Linked DNA regions of Homo sapiens: region 1 is linked to region 2. Evidence: fine-mapped expression QTL. A gene starts in region 2. The other region holds a variant in brackets. All regions are shown on one strand. Distances are from middle to middle.

Region 1 (12,420 bases), 94 kb after region 2:
TAAAACAAAAACAAAAACAACTCATAGTCAACTTATAAAGCAATCAATCAATAGAACCAGAATTCAAGATGGCCCAGATGTGGGAACTCTAAGACAGGGGCTTTAAAATAACTCTGATGAGGCTGTGCATGGTGGCTCACACTTGTAATCTCAGCACTTTGGGAGGTCAAAGTGGGCAGATCACCTAAGGTCAGGAGCTCGAGACCAGTCTGGCCAACATGGTGAAACCCCATCTCTACTAAAAAGACAAAAATTAGCCAGGCGTGGTGCTGGGTGCCTATAGTCCCAGCTACTAGGGAGGTTGAGGCAGGAGAATTGCTTGAACCCAGAAGGCAGAGGTTGCAGTGAGCCAAGATTGCACCATTGCACTCCAGCCTGAGCGACAAGAACAAAAACTCCATCTCAAAACAAAACAAAAACAAAAACAAAACAATACAAAAAAGCCCTGAAGAATTTGTTAAATGATCTAGAGGAAAAGGCATATGGCATACATGAACAGATGGGAAATTTCAGCAGAGAGATAGAGAGTATAAAAGACATGTGGGAATGCTACAAAAAATATATAAGACATAAAGAATTCCTTCAGAAAGCTTATCAGTGAACTAGTCTCAGCTGAAGAAAGATTAAGGAACTTGAAGATAGGTCAACAGGAATCATATAAAATGACACACAAATAACATAAAATGGGCTGGGCACAGTGGCTTATGCCTGTAATCCCAGCACTTCAGGAGGCCAAGACAGGTGGATCACAAGGTCAGGAGTTCAAGACCCGCCTGGACAACACAGTGAAACCCCATCTCTACTAAAAATACAAAAATTAGCCTGGTGTGGGGGCATATGCCTGCAGTCCCAGCTACTCGGGAGGCTGAGGCAGGAGAATTGCTTGAACCCAGGAAGCGGAGGTTGCAGTGAGCCAAGATTACACCACTACACTCTAGCCTTGGCGACAGAGTGACACTCTTGTCTCAGAAAAAAAAAAAAAAAAAAAACAACAAAAAAAAAAACATAAAATAGAGGGAAAAACTCTGTCTAACAAGGCCTCCAAGAGCTGTGAGATCATCTAATGTACATGCAGTTGGAGTCCCAGAACAAGCAAACAAACAGCAAGGAATAAAACAGAAGAAATATTTAAAGAGATAATTTGCAAATATAATGCAAGACAGCAAACCTCAGGTCCAAGAAGCTCAGGGAATCCCAACAGTATAAATACAAAAACAAATAAAAAATCTCCATACCAAAAAAAAAAAAAACCCCACCTAGACACATAAAATCAAACTTTTTAAAACCAAAGATAAGGAGAAAATGTAGAATGCATTTGGGAGTTGTGGGGGACATTACATACCCAAGAAGAAAGATAATTGTAATAGATTTCTTGTCAGACATGTAAGCTGGATGTTAATGAACTGACATCTTAAAGTACTGAAACAATTAATCCAGAATTCTATTATTCTATTACAGATCCATTAAAATATTGTTTTAAATTAAAGGCAAAAATAAAAGCTTTTTAGACCCTGAAAAACTAAGATAACTCACTGCTGAGAGACTTGTGCTACAATAAATGTTAAAGGTAGTTCTTTAGGCTATAGGAAAATTATACCAGATAAAAATTTGGGGTTACACAGAGAAGTGAGCACCAGAAATAGTAAAAGTGGATATTAAAAACATTTTCTCATGGCTGATTCTTTAAAAGACTGTCAACTATGGTGGCCAGGTGCAGTGGCTCATGCCTGTAATCCCAGCACTTTGGGAGCCTGAGATGGGCAGATGGCTTGGGTTTAGGAGTTTGAGACAAGTCTGGGCAACATGGTGAAACCCTGTCTCTACAAATAATACAAAAATTAGCTGGGCATGGTGGTGTATGCCTGTAGTCCCAGCTACTCAGGAGGCTGAGGCAAGGAGGTTGAGCCCAGGAGGGTGAGGTTGCAGTCAGGCATGACTGCACCACTGCACTCCAGCCTGAGCAACAGAGTGAGACCCTGTCTCAAAAAAAAAAAAAAAATTGTTAACTAAATTAAAAATAGTAAACAGGGTTTATGACAGATGTAGAAATAAGATACATGAAATCATTTGCACAAAGTGGAGGAAGGAGTTGGAACTATCTAATGTCATAAATGCAAACTACTAAGGAATGATAATATTCTGAAATTGTCAGTTTTTTTTAGGCAAAGTAATAATTTCAGATCAGTTGCTAGTATCAATGAACTATCAATGTTTGAAATGTTTTCAGTATAAGTAGTTCAAGGGTCAGTATGAAACTTAAATTTCGAGGGAAAAAAACTAACATCATTTAATTCTGTGGTTTTCAGATTTAGCTAATATCAGAATCACCTGGAAGAGTTTGTTAAGCAAAGTTTCTGAGCTTTCTGGGCACTATCCCTGAAAAGTCTGATGTCACACATCTCCTGGAGGTAACGCCTCTCTGTTTAACAAGCAGCCTCTGCAGCCAACAGGTTTTGCTTCTCTGGGGAGGAAGTTGACCTCAGCTGCAGTGACCTTCCTGGAGAATTAAACAGAGGGGTGCAGATCCTTACACATGGCCCTCTACCAGGATGACGACCTCCCTCTAGAACAGGAGATACTAGTTTTACTGGTTAATGGCAGAGCCGAGTCAGGGGAGGCCAGAACCAGGCAGAAGTAACTTGAGTTTTCAGCTCTGGAGAGACTGCAGCCTTGGTCAAAGCCAAGAAAATCCCCGTCCTTGCGTTATTGAAGTGGTCAGTGTGAAGAAACAAGAACTCCCCAGACACTGGATCTCTTTGATTGATCTAAAGACCTTTCACTCCAGGCACATGGGGCCCATGAAAACTGTGGGCCCAGCAGCATATCACACCAGCCTCTTGGTGTGGTGCTCTCTGTGGTTCAGAATAGGAGCCTCTCGGGTCACTGTAGGACCCCACCGGCCCCTTTCCTCCAGACATAGGCCACAGATCAGCAATGTATTTTAAGCGACCCCGTTGGCGTTGGGCCATGTGTGTGGCATCTCTGTGGCAGCAGGTGGCCACATGCTCCTGAGTCTCAGACTGGAGGTGAATAGGGCAGCAGAAGAAGTCACCAGTGTTGAGCCAAGTCACAAAGAATAGGGCCAGTGGCAAGGGTGATGAATGGGTCAAGGGGATTGTAGTCAAGGAGCTGTGGGCCAGGGCTGGGCTCCATGCAGGATTGTGCCTGGGGGACCATCGTGGGAAATGGCTTCCTTTGAGCTCCTCAAATGGAAGCAAGAGTCAGCCTGGTTTTCTTCCCTCCAGGGAGCAACACAGAAAGGATTTTCTTTCTTCCACACAAGAGGAAGTTTTTAGGCTCTGCCAAGTAACCAAAGTAATAGAAACTGTGATGTCTCCAGAACTAGCCTCCAACTTCCTCCAGGTGGCAGGAAGGGGAGCAGCCACCTCGCCTCTGTGGCTGCTTTGTTTTTCCCTTCTTTTCTTGTTCCTCCATAGCCTACTTCCTCCATTTTGGGGTTCCTGTATGTAAAGTACTCATTGACCCAGAGATTGTATCTCAAAACCTTGTACCCAAAGGAGCAATTTTCCTGTGAACGTTCCCAAGACAGCGTTCCCAAAAGGTGTTACCAGCCTCAAGTCAGCAATCATAGTGTGGAACGGCGGTTTAGTTGTTGAGTGGAATCTCTTAGCAATCTTCCGACAAGCTGGATCAATCAAGTGAAGCTAGATTTCTATTGTTGATTTTGTTGTTTGTATGTTCTCATGACTTAGGCATGACCTATGTGCCTCTCCTCCTCCAGCTCTCCAATTTTCGCCATCCACTGTGTGTCAGACTCAGGCCTTTGAGGTGCCTGCATCTCTATATACCACACATGAGGCAGGTAGGGCTCAGAAAGATTAACAACTTTACACACATCACCCCATTAGGAAGTAGTAGGGTCAAGAGTCGAGATTCAAATGCTGATATAATTCCCAAGTCTGTGCTCTTAACCAGCAATATCATCTTCAAGTTCAGCAAAGAGTGTTTTGTGTTTCTCTATCCAAATGATGCCCATCTACTCTGTACCATCTATGAGCGTACACCATCTATACTCTCATATCCTCACGTGCCCATTTTTCCTGTAATTCCACTTCTTAGGCTTGTTCCCTTTAATACTATAACCAAGCGAGGGAATTTCCACTTTAAAAGGGAATTTGAAAGAGTAGAGTCTCATGTGACTTCCATTCATTTCCCTGACCTGTAGTTGTCCAAGGGACAGAGGGCGTCTTTGCATGTTCAGTCAGTCTAAACAGCTTTATTTGGCAAGATGTTTACCAGTTTCCATGGTCTTTGGCAAGATGTAAACATGGGCAGAGGGTCCCGAGTAAGAAGAAGTTGGAAAGGAAGTTGCCTGGCCACCGATGAGGCTTCGCGTAACTGTTCCACATAAAGGTCGTCTACTGTTTTTTTTTTCTCTTTCAAGTTAAACCTCTTCCCCTTTTTAGATGACAAGTCACAAAGCTGATCTACCCCAGATTGTGGCAACCTCACCCTATCTATACATCAGCTAAAGGCTGATCGAAGATCAGGTCTAAAGATTGTTGCAAAAAATGAGATAAGCTTTTAAAAAACCCCAGATTCTTTAATTTTGTATGTCAGTCATCAAGTCTTCATTCACACGCTCACTCAGCAACTCTTTCTTGAGCGCCTGCTGTCTGCGCTAGACCCTGGGTAGGCAGGAATGCAGGCTAAGCGCCTTCTCTATGGGGCCTTACATCCAAGCGACAACGTGCCAGGAGGGGACCAGTGCCCAGGAGAAAAGGAAGCAGCATCAGAGCCAGGAAGGGAGTTGGGATCGGGAAGCTCTTTTAAGCTGGGTAGTCAGGGAAGCTTGAACTGAGACACCCAAGGGGCCGACAGTGTGGTTGTCTGGAGAGCAACCTGGGAGAGAAGCAGCAAGGACCAGGGCCCTAGAGCAGGGACCGGCTGGACAGATCCCAGACACAGTGTGATTGCCGGGGCAACTGGCATAAACAACAGAGCTGGGAAGGACACAGGGCAGCGGGAGGAGAGCAGGGCAAGGGCGAGGGCTCCACGGGGCCTCTAAGTCATGGGAGGACACAGGGCATTATCCTGGCGCATGTGGGGTGCCCTGGGGAGCTCAGAACAGAATCCAGACATGATTTGAATCATGCTAAAGCTTTGCCTTCTCTGGAGGGCAAAAGTTTGGGGCAGGAAGGAGTGGGAATGACTGGCTATGAATGTGGGATATACACTATTAATACATCCTGGAGATGGCCAGGAACATTTGCTGATTTTGCTGACGTATTTGATGTGGAGAAAGAATCCAAGCACGACTGCAAGGTTTGGGGCCTGAGCAGTTGGAAGGACTGACTGTTGCTTTGATGATAGCACATGTCGGAGGAACAGGTCTGGGGAGTGAAATTGAGTTTGGCTTCAGATCTGAGACTCTTCTGAATACTCTGAGTGGGGGTCGGCGTCTGGAGTTCCACAGGAGGCTCTAGGCTGAAGACAGCGTGTAGGAGTGGAGTCGGTTAATATGATTATTAACTGGATAGTGTCTTCCCAAAATTCATGTTCACGCAGAATATTATTTGGAATATTATTTTATATTATTTGGAAATAGAGCCTTTGCAGTTGCAATTAGTTATGGGACTCAAAGTGAAATTATCTTGCATTCAGGGCAGGCCTTATGAAAACAGGAGAGAACGCAGAGACGGAGGGTTTGTGAAGACGGAGGCATAGATTGGAGTGATGCATTCACAAGTCAAGGGGCACCAGGAACTGCAGACCCCACCGGAAATGGGAAGCGAGGCTGGGGACGGTTCCCTGCACAGCCTCCA[A/G]ATGGAGCCACCCCTGACAGCACCTCGATTTCGGACCTCTGGCCCCCGAAGAGTGAGGAAGTAGGTTTCCGTTGTTTTAAACCACATTGTTTGTGGTACTTTGCTGAGGAAACGGACTCAGGGCTCAGCCTGTAAAGGGTGTTTACAGCATGGGTCTGAATGATGCCCTCCAGAACCTGTGCCAGTGTGTGTTGATGTTGGGGGGAGGTGGCCAGGCAGAGGAGCTTCGTGAATCTTCTTACTAACCAGTGAAAAGCAACAAGGAAGAAACAGACGGTGCGTTCCAAAGTAATTCTGGCCAGTGCTGCCTCTGCAGCTCTCTGGGTAAAAGCTCCGTAAAGACTGAAAATCAGGGAACCTCACTCCTACCCTGGTGCCCAGTACTGAAGCTCGGTGCCCAGTACTGAAGCTCGGTGCCCAGTACTGAAGCTCGGTGCCCAGTACTGAAAATCATCCTTACAATATCAGCATTGGCTTGGAGGGGTGTTACATATTTTTAAATATCAGCTTTATTGGGATAACTTACATACAGCAAAATGCATCCATTCTCAGGGTCCACTTCAGTGAGTTTTGACAACGACTGTGTTCCAGTGTAACTGCAACCCCAATCAAGATCTAGAACTTTCTACTCCCACCAGCTTCCCTGAGCTCCCTTCCTGTCAATCCCTCCCCGTCTCTCCCTGCTCCAGGCAACTGCTCACCTGTTTTCTGTGACTAAATAGAAGAGGCTTCCCCTAGGGTTTTGCATACTTGGAACCCTACGGAAGGCACTGTCTGTGCCTGCGTCTTCGCCCCGGCGAGCTGTTTCCAGAATCCTCTGGGCGGTGGCCTCGCCTCCTGGGCTGCGCTGCGATCAGCTGGGGCAGGCTGTGCTTCTCTTACCAACCCTGCTTCGGTGACACCGGGTTGTTTGCCTGACATTGGCCGTGGTGTGAGTGTTGACCTCACAGAAACGGGCCCGGGCTACCAGCCGGGGCTGCGTTCTCCCAGAGCACTGGAGGATACACATCTGCCGGTCACACGCTGGCCATGTCTTTTCACATTCAGAATAATTTCCTGATCACTCTTCTGCCCATATGAGCAAAAGTCCAGTCTCCATGATTGCCCTGCCCCGGCCTGCTCATAGCTCACCCTCCCGTGTTCCCAGGAATCCCAGGAGCCCGCCTCGAGGGCCGTATCCTGCTTCCAGAGGCATCGTGGACAGAGAAAGGAAGCCCGAGGCCCATCCCTGGCTTGACTGCGTGGGACGCGTTCTCCGCTGCCCTTGCTTCCCTCACGTGGAGCGGAGAGCAGGCGCTGAGAAGGGGCCCTGCGTGGTGACCCACTAGGGTTAGTTCAGAGCCTTGTGCACACAGACCCGAGGGGGTTTTCAAAGGAAGCTGACACCCCCGCGAGCTGAGGGCGGCTGTTCTCACGCATGCTCAGTGGCGCTCCCTGAGTGCTGAGAGCCACGGTCGGTGAGAGAGGAGCTTCCTGATGAGCCTCAGACGGTGCTGAAACCAGCCGACTCTGCCCAGGATCCTGAGTCCTGGTTTCCTGTTGACCCTTCCTTCCCTCACGACTTATTTCCCCTGGGAACTATCGATGTTCTTTTGGCCAGTGGGCTTCCGTTGAGGCCATCCTAATCATCAGAGAGGTTTTAGTCGAGTTAAACCTCAAAAGAGAAGGTGTTTCTTAATTTTCCCAGGGGTGCCCTTGGCCCTGATACAGATTTAGCTACCTTCCCCCGAAAGCCTCAAAGTTCTGCAAACTCACAGCCAAGCAAAACGCAGCTGCAGTCGAGCCAGCCTCGAAAGGTCTTACAACTTTCTGCAGTGGCCAGCTTGTTCTCTGTTTCCATGCCTTCCAGAATGAAGAAGATCAGTTCTAAGGTTTCTTACTATTTCTACCAAGAGACGACCATCGGCATTCCACAGACGGCTCCTCTAGCTGTGCACAATGCCTGTTCTTATCGTTATCACCCGCTTCGCGCCAGCGGTTCTCAATACAAATTCCTTGAGGTTTCACAGTCACAGATAGGTTGTATTTGTAGGGAAACAGAAGTGCTTCAGTGGAATACTATTGCTCTTTGTACAGAAACCTGACACCTAGTACTTCTGAATTCTAATCCTAGTTCTGTTAACAATTGGCTTTGTAGCAGCCTAGATAAAGTCAAATTATTTCTCTGTGTAAAAGAAAAACCTAACCAGTAGCAGGGGCACAGTAGTCTATGTGCCTTCCCTCTGGGCTTGTGGTTAGTCAGCAATGGGGGCTTTGTGAACTGCGTAGACCAGCACCCCACAGTCTGTTTCAGTTCCAGTTTATCCCATTGTCTCACGTGATCTTGAGTCATTTAATCATTCTGTGCTTTTTCAGCCTTCAGTGTAACAAAATAATTTACTAAGCACCTAGCAACTTGGGGTTTGCTTGAGGTTGTTATATCTGATTAGATATATCTCTATTAGATATTAGATGTGTCTGTACATGTAAAGTATGATACATTATATCCCCACAAGCCAAACAGGCACACGTAAGGCCAGCTTATAGCATTGAGATTTGGAAGACCCCTTAGAAGGTAGATCAGTGACCAACAACTGGGCAAGAAATTCCCTTGACAATGCAGCTGCTTGAGTAGTTTCAGTTTCAGAGCTCTCCTGTGGCAAGTGAATTATTGGATAGTAGTGACTTATTCATGTGTTAGAAAGTCCTTCTTTGGATGAGCTGGTATCTACGGAAACTTCCCTTATTCTACTTTTGTCTCTGCACCTAGCATAGTTCCTGGTACAGTATATAATGAGCCCTCAGAAAATATTAGGGGAACTGAGAACAAGACTGTTTTCTTCCACACAGTAGCTCTTTAAAATTTGAAGGTAGCTCTCATGTTGCCCCCTAATTTTCTCATTTTGGGACTAAACACACTCACTTGCTATAATTCTTTATAGAGGGGTGTGGCCCCCGATGTGTGGCTGTGGAAAGGCATGGTCCCCAATGTGTGACCGTTCAGGTTGCGTTTCTGAACGCAACTCACATCACTTCTAAGATAGGGTGTCCAGGTCTGGAAGAAATGATCCATTTCTCTACTGATGAGCATAGCAATCTGTGGGCCTGTTGCTGTCCACGTCTGGAATACCAGCTAAGGTGGATTGATGGTGCCGATGGCCCCCATGCATAGGTTCCTGGCACTCCCATCCTCTGGGATGTGGTCCACAGCTCCTCCCATTGCAGGTGGAGGGTCTGCTTCCCCACCCAAGTCTGCCTTGGCCTGAGACTTGCTTTGACCAGTGGAATGTGAGCAAAGTGAGGCTGTGCCAGTTCCAGTCTGTGCCACCAGGTCCCTGCTGGAAACCAGCTTCCATCATGACAGCAGGCTGGGGCTGGCCTGCATGAGGGTGACAGAGCACAAGAGGTACAAGAGTTGTTCCTGTCAAGGCCATTCTGGACCAGCCTGCACTGGCTGACCGATTGACCAGACAGGGAGTGTGCTGGGCCAGGTCATAGTGGCCCTAGGACCACCCTGGAGACTTGGGGGCAATGTTGAATGGTTATCACTGTGTGTCACTGAGGTTTTAGGGTTGTTTCTCGGGCAGTGTTGTTTTGGCAATAGATAATTCATACACCCTACTACTAGCACTGCCCAAGACTGGATTATCTGTGACAGGGACTTATATCAGACTTGTGACCTATGACCTTCGTCTGATCACTTTTATGTATACCAATTTCCCTACCTGTGCCATCCAACATGGTAGCCACCAGTCATGTGTGACTACAGAGTGCTTGAAGCATGTTAGTCTGAAGTGAGATGTGCTATAAATATAAACTACACACCTGATTTTGAAGACTTTCTACAAAAATCTAAACGATCTCACTGACAATTTTTATTGATTACATGTTGAATGTATTATATTTTAGATATATCAAGTTAAAATAAAAATATTTGGAAAATTAATAATTTCAGTTTGCTTTGTTTTGTTTGTTTGTTTGTTTGTTTTGAGATGGAGTCTTGCTCTGTTGCCCAGGATGGAGTGCGGAGGCTGCAACCTCCATCTCCCGAGTTCAAGAGATTCTCCTGCTTCAGCCTCCCAAATAGCTGGGATTACAGGCATGCGCCACCACACCCGGCTAATTTTGTATTTTTAGTAGAGATGGGGTTTCTCCATGTTGGCCAGGCTGGTCTCAAACTCCTGACCTCAGGTGATCCACCTGCCTTGGCCTCCCAAACTGCTGGGATTACATGTGTGAACCACTGCGCCCGGCCTCGGTTTGCTTTTTTGAATGTGGCTGCTAAAAAATTAAAATGACATACGTGGCTCACGTTACATCCCTGCTGGACAGCAGCGTCCCAGACAGAGCCCTGGAAACCTACATGTTTCTAATTTCCTTATCTTCATATTTTATTGTTTTCAGCTCAGAATTCCAACCACATGAGATAATATGGAACCTTGAGCACTATCTGTAGCATCTGTTGTCCATCACAGATCTTAGAATTCAGCAGGTTTGATAATCATCTTTCCCTTTTGCATGCAACTCATTGATTTAAAATAATTCTGACCAGCACAAGGCCAATGGCACGATCATGTAGCATTTCATTAATCAATTCTTTTCACACCAAAAATATCACTTCCCATTCCTGGTGGTACAAAGTGACTCAATCAGCAAGGAATCTACCTAAGCAGCAGGGTCATTCGGCCTACATTTGCCATTTTATCTCAGGGGATTTTATTTATTTATTTTCTGCTTTTTTTGAGACAGAGTTTCACTCTTGTCACTCGGGCTGGAGTGCAATGGTGCGATCTTGGCTCACTGCAACCTCCGCCTCCTGGGTTCAAACGATTCTCCTGCCTCAGTCTCCCGAGAAGCTGGGATTACAGGTGGCTGCCACTGCACCTGGCTAATTTTTGTATTTTTAGTAGAGAGGGGGTTTTGCCATGGTGGCCAGGCTGGTCTTGAACTCCTGACCTCAGGTGATCTGCCCACCTCGACCTCCCAAAGTACTGGGATTACAGGCATGAGCCATCGCGCCCGGCCTCTCAGGAGATTTTAAAGGAATCTGCGAGATGCTTTGCTGAAGTCCAGATCTGCGGGAGGTGGAGCTGCCCGAGCCCAGCGCTCAAGGCCCAGCCAGAACCGAACCAAGGCTGGCTGGGGCCGATGCACGCGAAGTGCTTGTCCCGTTTACTTCTAAATGCCCACAGGGTGTTCATTAGACAGCGTGGCCTGAAGTGTTTCCTGATGTCGAGTCATGGCCGCCTGGGTTTCTTCACAGCTTTCCTTTTGGAGCTCAGGGCGGCTGTCGTCTTGGGCTCCAAGGGTGCCTTTCCGCCTTCTCGGGTCCTTCCGGGTGCTGGAGCCGGCGCTCCGACACAGGGAGATGTCTTCATCAAGGGGATTCCACAGAGCCACTCCCAGCCTAATACCAGATATAAAAAGCTACGTTCATGGATGCAAGCTCAGTTTTCTACTTAAAAAGTGAAGAGATTCCGCTTGCAAGTTTGATTCAGTTCAATACCTTCCCTGATACCTCCTGTTTTACTTTTCTCATATATAATTCTTCCGCCTATACACAGGAAATGCAACAATTTTTTTCCACCAAGCCTCTTCTAGGTGCCCAGACCACCCCCGCTAACCCCAGTGTGCCCTGCACAAACGTGGGGTCCTGTGGATGCCCGGAGGTCATAATCGGGGAGCCCTGCTCTCTCTCCCGCACCTGGTTCCCTGGCCTCAGGCTGAGTCACACAGTCCCTCAGGCCTGGAGTGCTCTCTGACTCTCACCTGTGTGGCAAACGCCTCTGCATCCTTCAGCGCTCCACCCTGGACCTTACTCCTGCTGCGCTGCTCCTCAAGGCCCGGGAAAGCTTCCCAGGACCGATCTGGGTGTGGATGTGTGGGGCACGTTATTCTAACAATTTGAAGTAAGTTTCTTATGATGGAAGTGCCCCTGTCCCCAGGTCAAAGTACCTGCTTTCTAAAGCCCAAGTCTAACATCCTTATTCCAGTCTCCAGGCACGAACCTCGCCGAGACACCTCCACACTGCTCCCCATACCTCCCTGCAGTTTTCCTCCCTGGGTTCCTCCATGGACACGCTTCACTCTGCAGGGAACCTCCTAGCTCCCCTCCCTGCTGCCCCATGTCAGGCACCCTTGGGGATAAAAAGCATCTGCTGTGGGTGCATGAAGAGCATCTGCTGTGGGTGCATCTCCTGGCACGTCTGTCTTCCGTAGCTCCTCTTAGAACTCCAGCCATGGGTGTCGATTCTGTTCAACCCACAGTCCTCACATCCTGGGAACCCCCTTGTGGTTGCATTATCTTTAATCTTTTGTGATTATGTCAGTCAACACTGAGTTGCCTTTTACACAATGGGAGCAAGAGGAAGAAGGAGGAAGAGGAGGAGGCCAAGCTGCAGGGAAGAAGGATATGGAGAGGAGGGGGCAGCAGTTACTCCCACCCTTGGTTGATGACAACCAACACGTTTAGGGCTTGTTGAGTTAAAACCACAATCCCCCAGGAGGTGAATAGAGAAACTTGCGAGAAAAAGAGAGACAAAGGCATTTGTGAACAGGAAAAGCAGGCTTTGTTTTCAGGCTGCTTGGAGAAAGTACTTAAGTAATGACTTTTACTGGGAATAACTAGAATAACTGGTCATGGATAAAAGTCCCT
Region 2 (8,000 bases):
TAGATAAGGGCAGTCCTGATCATACATCTGGCTGCATTTGCACAAAACAGTACAGTTAGCCCATCCCTTCCCGCCTTGGATCCTGATGTTCACTTCTCTTCCTAATAAATATCCTCTGTGGCACTATTTTCCCCCAGAATAGGGCATTTTCGTTTGCCTTAAAAACCTGTTCAGGCAGATATCTTTTCTCCTCAGTGATTTTCTCTATTTTTTTTTATTTTTATTTTTTATTTATTTTTTTTTGAGAGAGTCTCATTCTGTCTCCCAGGCTGGAGTGCAGTGGTGCAATCTCACTGTAACCTCTGCCTCCTGGGTTCAAGCGATTCTCATGCCTTAGCCTCCTCAGTAGCTGGGATTATAGATGTGCACCACCACACCTGGCTAAATTTTGTATTTTTAGAAGAGACAGGGTTTTGCCATGTTGGCCAGGCTGGTCTCGAACTCCTGGCTTCAAGCAATCCACCCACCTCAGCCTTCCAAAGTGCTGGGATTACAGGCATGAGCCACAAAGCCTGGCCTTTTGTCCTCAATAATTTCCTTAATGGTATCTGGGAACTCGTCGGCTGCATCTGGGTCAGCAGAAGCTGCTTCTCCTGTTATCTTGACATTTTTTGAAAGCCAACCCACTTTTTAAAATTATCATACCTTCCTTCATCTTCCTTTTGCTTTGTCAGATAATGACTTCACTTTTTCTTGAATATTAGATTATATAGGTATGCCTTTCTCATAGCAATCCTGCACCCACAAAAAGCTGCATTTGCAATATGAGATAAAAAGGTATTTCCCAAAAAGTGCAAGGTTTTCATGCTTGTTGGTGTAGCTGCAGCGATGGCTTCATAAACTTCCTTTTGTTTTTATACCACAGTCCTTATACTGGATTCATTTATCTTAAAATGGCAGGCGACCTTAGCTGCAGACCTCAATCTACAATACACAGCAAGCAATTCCGCTTTTTCTGTAATGTCATTAACTTTTCTCTGATTCTTGGGAGCATTTCCAGCACCACTAGCGGCACTTCGTAATGGTCCCATGGTGTTACGCAAGGTTTACAGTACTGCAGTGAACACAACGAGAAATATGTGAGAACCTCAAGAGCTTACCTTTTACTGTGATATGCAATGTACTGGAGAGATCAACTGCTCACTCAGAGATGATTATGTTACTTGGAATTTTTAGCCAATACCAGCAACACTGACGCTCACTGCAATAGCAACAGGAGGTGGCTACAAAATCATTACAGTAGTACTCTATGTACTACAGTGAATTTGATGCAGTTATTATTTAATATTGCATCTTTACAACTGTTTACACCTCTCTTGAACCTAATGGGTGCCATGTAACTGTCTGTTTGTACGTGTAAGTTTTGATAAATTTTAACTTTTTATAACAGGCTTGTATATATTTTATGATAGTAAATAATAAAATGGCCTAGTATCTACATATATTTTATGCATTCATGACATATCTAGCTTTTTCTTTTCTTTTTTTTTCCATATTTCTTGGCTAAGCGACTCATCTGTGAGGTTTTTCACAAAATTGTTGCCATCGCCAAAAATATTCCATTTACTGAAAAAAATCCACATATAAGTGTACTCACGCAGTTCAAACTAATGTTGTTCAAGAGTCAACTGTATAAAAGGTATTAATATGTCTGGAAAGAGATATGTTTCCAATTTAACAGACACTACCAATGAGAAGAGTTGGGCTAGGCAGGAAACTTCAAATTTTCCTTTTTTACTTTATATATTCTATTTGTATCTCAACTTATAACCTGTGGACCACGTTTATTAGAAGAAAATGCAGATTCCTGAAACTTCCTGCAGACCCCATGAGTGACAATCTCAGGGAGATGGAGTTCCAGAATCTGCTTTTTTTCATAGATGTTTCTTTGCCATTCCTGTGTATATCTGAGTTTCAGTAGCACTGCTAATCAATTGTTTGGGGTTCTCTCTCCTTCACCAGCATGTTCTTGCAAAACTAACCAAACACATATAAAGCGCAAACAGTACAATAGTGCACTGCACCTTCATGACCCTTACCTGTTCCAGCCTCTTCCTACCTCTTCCACATGTGATATGTGTGTACATACCCACAGACAGAAACACAGAGACATGTTTGGAAGCCAGTGTGGATGCCCTGTGATCTGTGTGTACACATGACAAGTGCATACACACGCACATAAAGGAACCCAGAGACGTGTTTGGAAGCCAGTGTGGACACCCTGTGATCTGTGCGTACACATTTGACACCTGCGTACACACTCACAGACAGAAACACAGAGATGTGTTTGGAAGCCAGTGTGGACATCCTGTGGTCTGCGCGTACACATGTGACAGGTACGTGCACGCCCACATACAGGAACACACAGAGGCCTTTGGAAGCCAGCATGGGCAGACAGGCCCTATCCCAAAGCGGCCGGCAGGCGTCTCCTAAGAATGGTTCTCGGACACACCTCTGAAAGGAAAATACAACTCGGCACCGCAGTTGACTCGGCCAAAGGAAAAAAACTTAAGCTGAAAGCTGAGGCCTGCCCGAAGGAGCCTTTCCTGTGGCGCCTGAGCCGAGGGCTTCAGGGAGAGGGCCGCGCATCGCAGCGCAGCCGCCCGTCTTCCCGTGGCTTCCCTACGGCCGCGGCTCCCGCTGCTCCTTTCCGCCGGCCACGCGGGTCGCACGACCTTCCCCTCCCGCCCACCCTGAGGCGCTGAAGCCCTCGACGCCGGCCTCGGGAAAGGCGCGGCCACCGCCCGTTTCGGATTCCCGTTTCCTTCCTCCGGGCGCGTCCTTCACCGTGGCCAAATCAGCCTCTCAACTGCTGGAGCCCGGCCTCGGACACTTCTCGGCTTACGCCGCCATACAGTGGCGCACCCCGAAACCCCGGAACCGACAGCTCGGCTGGCCTTGCGCACCCACACTCTCCAAGGCAGGGCTCGGTCCGGGGGCTGGTTTTGCCAAGGCGAGGGGCGAGGGGCAGCCCAGGCGGCCGGATGGATACCAAGAGGGCGCGTCAGCTCCGGCGGGACGGGGCTTCCAGGGCCCGGGAGGGGTCCAGGACTCCCCGCCGGCGCCTGGCTGTCGGCGGAGGGCCGCGGGGCAGGAGGGAGTGGAGACTGCGGCCCCAGTTCGGGCAGCGCGGAGCCCACCCAACGCCCTCCTCGGCCCTCGGCTCTTCCTGGGGCCATCCCGCCCCTGCACCTCGGCCTGGCACCTTTCCGGTTAGCCTCGGAGGCCGTGGCCGAGCAGGGTGCGTTCGCCTGGCTGGGGGGCCTCAGAACGTTATTTCCGGGTGACAACCTGCAGGGCCTTCCGCCCCTCGCGACCTCTCGGGAGTCCCTTCCCCGGCGCCCCCCCGGGGCTGCAGGGGCTGCAGGTTCGGTCTCGGGGCCTCCTTACCGCAGTCCGCCCGGCTTTAGGCTAGTGGGCTTTAACTACGTCGATAATATGACTCCGGCGATCTTGTGCGGCGATGGGATGCGGCCGTGGGCGGTGGAGTCCAGGCGGAGTCCGCTCTCCACACGCGAGGGCGCCTCCTCCTCACCGCTCGCCGGCTTCAAAGCTCGCGCCTCAGGCGACGGCAGCCAACGGGTTGCCGGCTGGAGGCCCCGCCGACGCCCCGCCCCTTGCGTGCCCACCCGCGCCCCGCAGCCCCGCCCCCAGCGCCGACCCTAAGTTTCGGCGCTCAGTGGTCCGGCGCTCCCCAAGGCTCGGTGTCCAGCGTCAACCCCGAGGTCTCTATGCCCCGCCTCCCGACGCCAGGGGGCAGGGCCAGCGCGCTGCGCGTCGGGGCGGGGCTTTGGCTGCGTCGGCCGCGTAGCCCGCGCGCGGAGCGTACCCTGCTGCGGCCGTTGGCCGTTAGCGCGGCTTCGGCGGTTGTCTTGGAGAAGCAAGATGGCGGCGACGGCGGCCGCAGTGGTGGCCGAGGAGGACACGGAGCTGCGGGACCTGCTGGTGCAGACGCTGGAGAACAGCGGGGTCCTGAACCGCATCAAGGTGAGGCCGGAGGCTGGGGCCGGGCCTGGCGGATCCGCAGGGCTTGCGTGGACAGCGGGCGTCACAACGGTCGCGGCGAGGAGGCCGCCTCCCTGGCGAGGGACCGGGGCCGGCGGGCACTGGGGGCGCGCCCCGGCATGGCCTCCGTCCTGCCCGCCCCACAGAGGGGGTCGGCTCGTTCGTTCGTGTGGTCCCGGAGGGCACCGCGGACTGGGGGTGCCTGGCCCATCCCCTGCCTCATTCCGTGGGGGCGGGACCGCGGGGCTTGGGGGCCACACGGGCGGCCCGCAGCTGGGCCCTGGAGTGCGGCCCCAGCGTCTCTTCCTCAGGCTCGGGCATGATCCGCGGCGGGAAAGCAGCGCGTCCAGCCGAAGCCTGGGGGTCGGAGAGCTTGTGTGACTGAGAACGTTTCGGAAGGCGTTTCTGACCTTTGCACCTGCCCTCCCAGCTCGTTGGCTTGCTCGTGTTTGTTGCTGGATAAATGTGAGCTTGTTGTGAAAATTGTCTTGAAATTATAATTTCCTGTTTCTTAACTTTTTTTTAAGGCTGAACTCCGAGCAGCTGTGTTTTTAGCACTAGAGGAGCAAGAAAAAGTAGAGGTATGAAGTTTCCAGATTTTAACATGGCTGTATTCGTTAATACTTAATTTCTTATTCATTAAAAACCGTCTTAAAAATAGTTTATAGTAACATATAGCTAGGGATAATTTTGAACTGTTAAGGATTACATTACTATTGAGAGAGAGCCAAAATTATTCTTTTTTCGTGTAGCTTTTGAATTTGGGGGTAATCTTAAGGTACCACAGTAACTCTGATACTAATGCTTAATCTGAAACAAATGGTCATAGGAGTTTCTTGAAGAAATGGTGCCATTGTCAATGTGTTAAGTGCAGGTTCACTCAGATCCTTTAGTAAGCTAATATGTTATTAATCCCTATGAAACGGGGTATATAGTATGCAACTTTTCCCAAAATTATCTGACCACTCAATTATTTTGACAATGAAAAAGACAGCGATTATTTTAAAAGTGCAGCCACTACTCTATATTTAAGTGGGTAATTTAACTTTTTCGGAGTCCCACCAACCATCCTGAGTAAATATTCTGGAATTTGTCAACAAGAATAGAACCATCATCAAAGCCTTAAACTCTTGCTGTATGACAAATCAGTCTACTGTCCTCTCACTTCTTTAGACCTGTATACCTAATCTCTAATTTCATCAAAATCTTCAGTTCTTTGCCCTTTCCATGTCTGTGCAGGCATCAGTCTTCTCTTGGCAGCATTTTGCTCTGGACCCTATGGGTCTGGACCCCTAATTACCTTGCCTTAACGGTCATACGTGGTCTGGAAGAAATCTCAGTGGTCATTTAACCCAGCAAACTAACTCTTCCCACTTTGCACATATGTGCTCTTGGAGAAGAGTCAGTCAATCCTGTGGATTGCTGATGTTGCAAATTGGCAGGTACCAACCTGGTTAGGTCCTGAGCAGGCCCAGCAGCTCTCTTCTTCACCCTAGCTGTGCAGTAGCCTTCTATGTCACCCCTGCTTCCTTCTCTCTGAACACATGGTCTTGTTGCTTCCTCCACAGGGAAGGTAGAAGCCATTAGATCCTAACTTTATGTCCTCCTCTCCTGTCCCTCAATCTATTGCTCACCTGTGAAAATGCTTACCTGTGTCTATGTTTATCTGTACCTCTTTCCTTACTGCTTTAGAAGAAGAGGCTCTGTCCTGTCCAAGAATAATCACTCTGTCTTGTGTATACTTTCAAGTCTTTAATTATTTACTGTATCTTTGACCCCTTCCTTTTCTGATGGCTTTTCTTTTGAGCTTGAAAACATGTTTAAATAACTATTAGGAGTAAACTGTTTTCCTTTACTCACATTCTGCTTTTAATACCGCTGTGGTTTTTTTCCTTCACAACCTGGTTTTGACCACTCCTTGGTTTCTTTAGCATGATCTTTTTCCTGTACACCTGACTGAGACTTATCCACAGTTGTCATTCTGTACTGTCTCACAGACTGACCTTATTCATCCAGTAACTCCAGCCCTGTAACTTTCATGCATGTTTCTTTCCCGAGCTTCAGACCTGTATGTTAAACTGCCCACTGTATTATGCCCTTAATGGGACCATCATTTATCTGGCAAGAAATCTAAGCGTTTCTTAGGCCTTGCTCTTCTTTCCACCTGCTCAGCCATCACCTGGCTCTGTGTCTGTCAGGTGTGTATCTGAAGTGTCCCCAAGGGAGTGCTCTGCTGCCTCCTTTGTGCTTGTTTCTTCTTTTCCAGATTGCCTTATCCCCTTCCTACTTGCCAGTCTCCGTTTCCGTGGTGTCCCTCACCATCTCCCTGAAGTCCTTTTTCCACATTGCTCCTAGATTGGCTGTTTATAGTACACATCTGATCTGTCCCTCCATTCTCTTAAAATATTTCAGTTGACTCCCTATCTTAGAATTCCCTGAACCAGCCTACCAACTACCTTGAGGATCTCTCCTCTCCTTGTCTTTTATTTTAACAACTTTATTGAGGTAAAATTGACCTATAGTAAAGCTAAAGTATTTAATATGTACAATTTGATTTTTAATAGTTAATTTATGCAGCTGTGAAATGATCATCACAATCAAGGTACTGCGCATATCCTTCAAACTTTTGACCTTCAAAAGTTTTCCTTGTGCCCCTTATGTAACCCTCTCCCCCACCCCAAACCTTTTTAAGAATTATATAAATGGAATCGTATAGTAGGTACTCTTTTTTTTTGGTCTGTTTCTTCAACATAATGCATTTGAAATTCATTCATGTTGTGGTATGTATTAATAAATCATTTCATTAATACATTGTACAGATATGACAGTTTAGCCATTACCTGCTGACAGACATTTAGGCTGTTTCCAGTTTTTGAGTATTACAAATAAGGTTTCTGTGAACAGTCACATACAAGTCTTTGCTTGGATCTGTGATTTCTCTTGAGAAAATATGTAGAGGTGAAGTGACTAGGTCACATGCTAGGAATATTTGTGACTTTTAAGAAACACTACCAAATTGCTGTCCAAACTCGTTATGCCATTTTGCATTCCCATCAGCAGTGTATGAGGCTGCCACTGTAGCAGCAATTAATGTGGTCTTAAGGAAGCTTACCATGTGCTACCTACTGTAGCCTCTTCTCAGCAACAATCACAGGCTTGATGGTCTAGAAGTATTTTTTCCATACTTATTCAAATAAATGTATAATTACAAAAATAAGTTGGCCTATGGGCCGCATAAGATCATCTCACATTTCATGGATAAACTGGGAATTACAAGTGTATAATTAAATTCCTGTTCATAGTAAGTATGCTATAAATGGTAGATACCTGAGATGACAAAACTTTTATCAAACTTCATGTATTTGAAATAATAAACAGTTGTTGACATTTAATTGTATTTCACACAGGTATTTGAAAATATCTAGCTTCAAAAGCAGTTTATAAAACATTTAAAAATTAAAAATACAAATCTTCATATATGGTTTTGTTATATTAACTTTGAGAAATTACTAAATAGCACAAAGTAAGTCCTGTAGTAATTAACAGTTGTAGAATGGATTTTGTAAAACCATAATTTTATCAATGAAAACGTTAAACTTTATATTTTGTAGTTGTTTTTAGGGTAAACACATGACACTTAAATTTTTTTTTTTTTAACAGAACAAAACTCCTTTAGTTAATGAGAGCCTGAAAAAGTTTTTAAATACCAAAGACGGTAAGATGTTCAGTTTGTTCTTGTTTATCTATCTCTGAATTTTTGAATCTTGATACCATTTGGGAGAAATCAGGAATTTCAGGGCTTTTTTTTTGTCTTCAATTGTTATAGGTCCTCATTTTAAAATAATATTTTATTGTACAACAATCGTGTTGCTATTACATATTTTTGGATTTGGGATGTTGTTGCTTAAAGCCAGTTTTACTACAAAAAGCCAATATTAACCATTAAAAAGCGAAACACTGAAATCTATGAGATGATTGTCTTACAGTTAGTTACA

Evidence for each region.
Region 1: its variant is fine-mapped to the expression of CEP43 in whole blood (TOPMed, PIP above 0.99). The same link has a PIP of 0.9 or more in neutrophils.

The regions. Positions count from the first base shown.
Region 1 is chr6:167,087,000-167,099,419 of GRCh38, forward strand. No RefSeq gene overlaps it. Among named protein-coding and RNA genes, the nearest start is that of CCR6, 30 kb to the right of the region's middle. RefSeq lists enhancers at 5,382-5,441, 6,327-6,396, 6,507-6,876, 8,207-8,266, 8,467-8,546. The variant A/G (reference allele first, on the strand shown) is at 5,787.
Region 2 is chr6:166,995,528-167,003,527 of GRCh38, forward strand. It overlaps CEP43 (centrosomal protein 43), which reads left to right and starts at 3,870. Exons shown (of 13, transcript NM_007045.4): 1 at 3,870-3,987; 2 at 4,533-4,586; 3 at 7,666-7,720. The coding sequence starts at 3,886. MIR3939 (microRNA 3939) reads right to left here and starts at 2,385; the gene lies at 2,280-2,385. RefSeq lists an enhancer at 2,352-2,401 and silencers at 2,942-3,171, 3,462-3,981, 4,072-4,231, 4,242-4,331.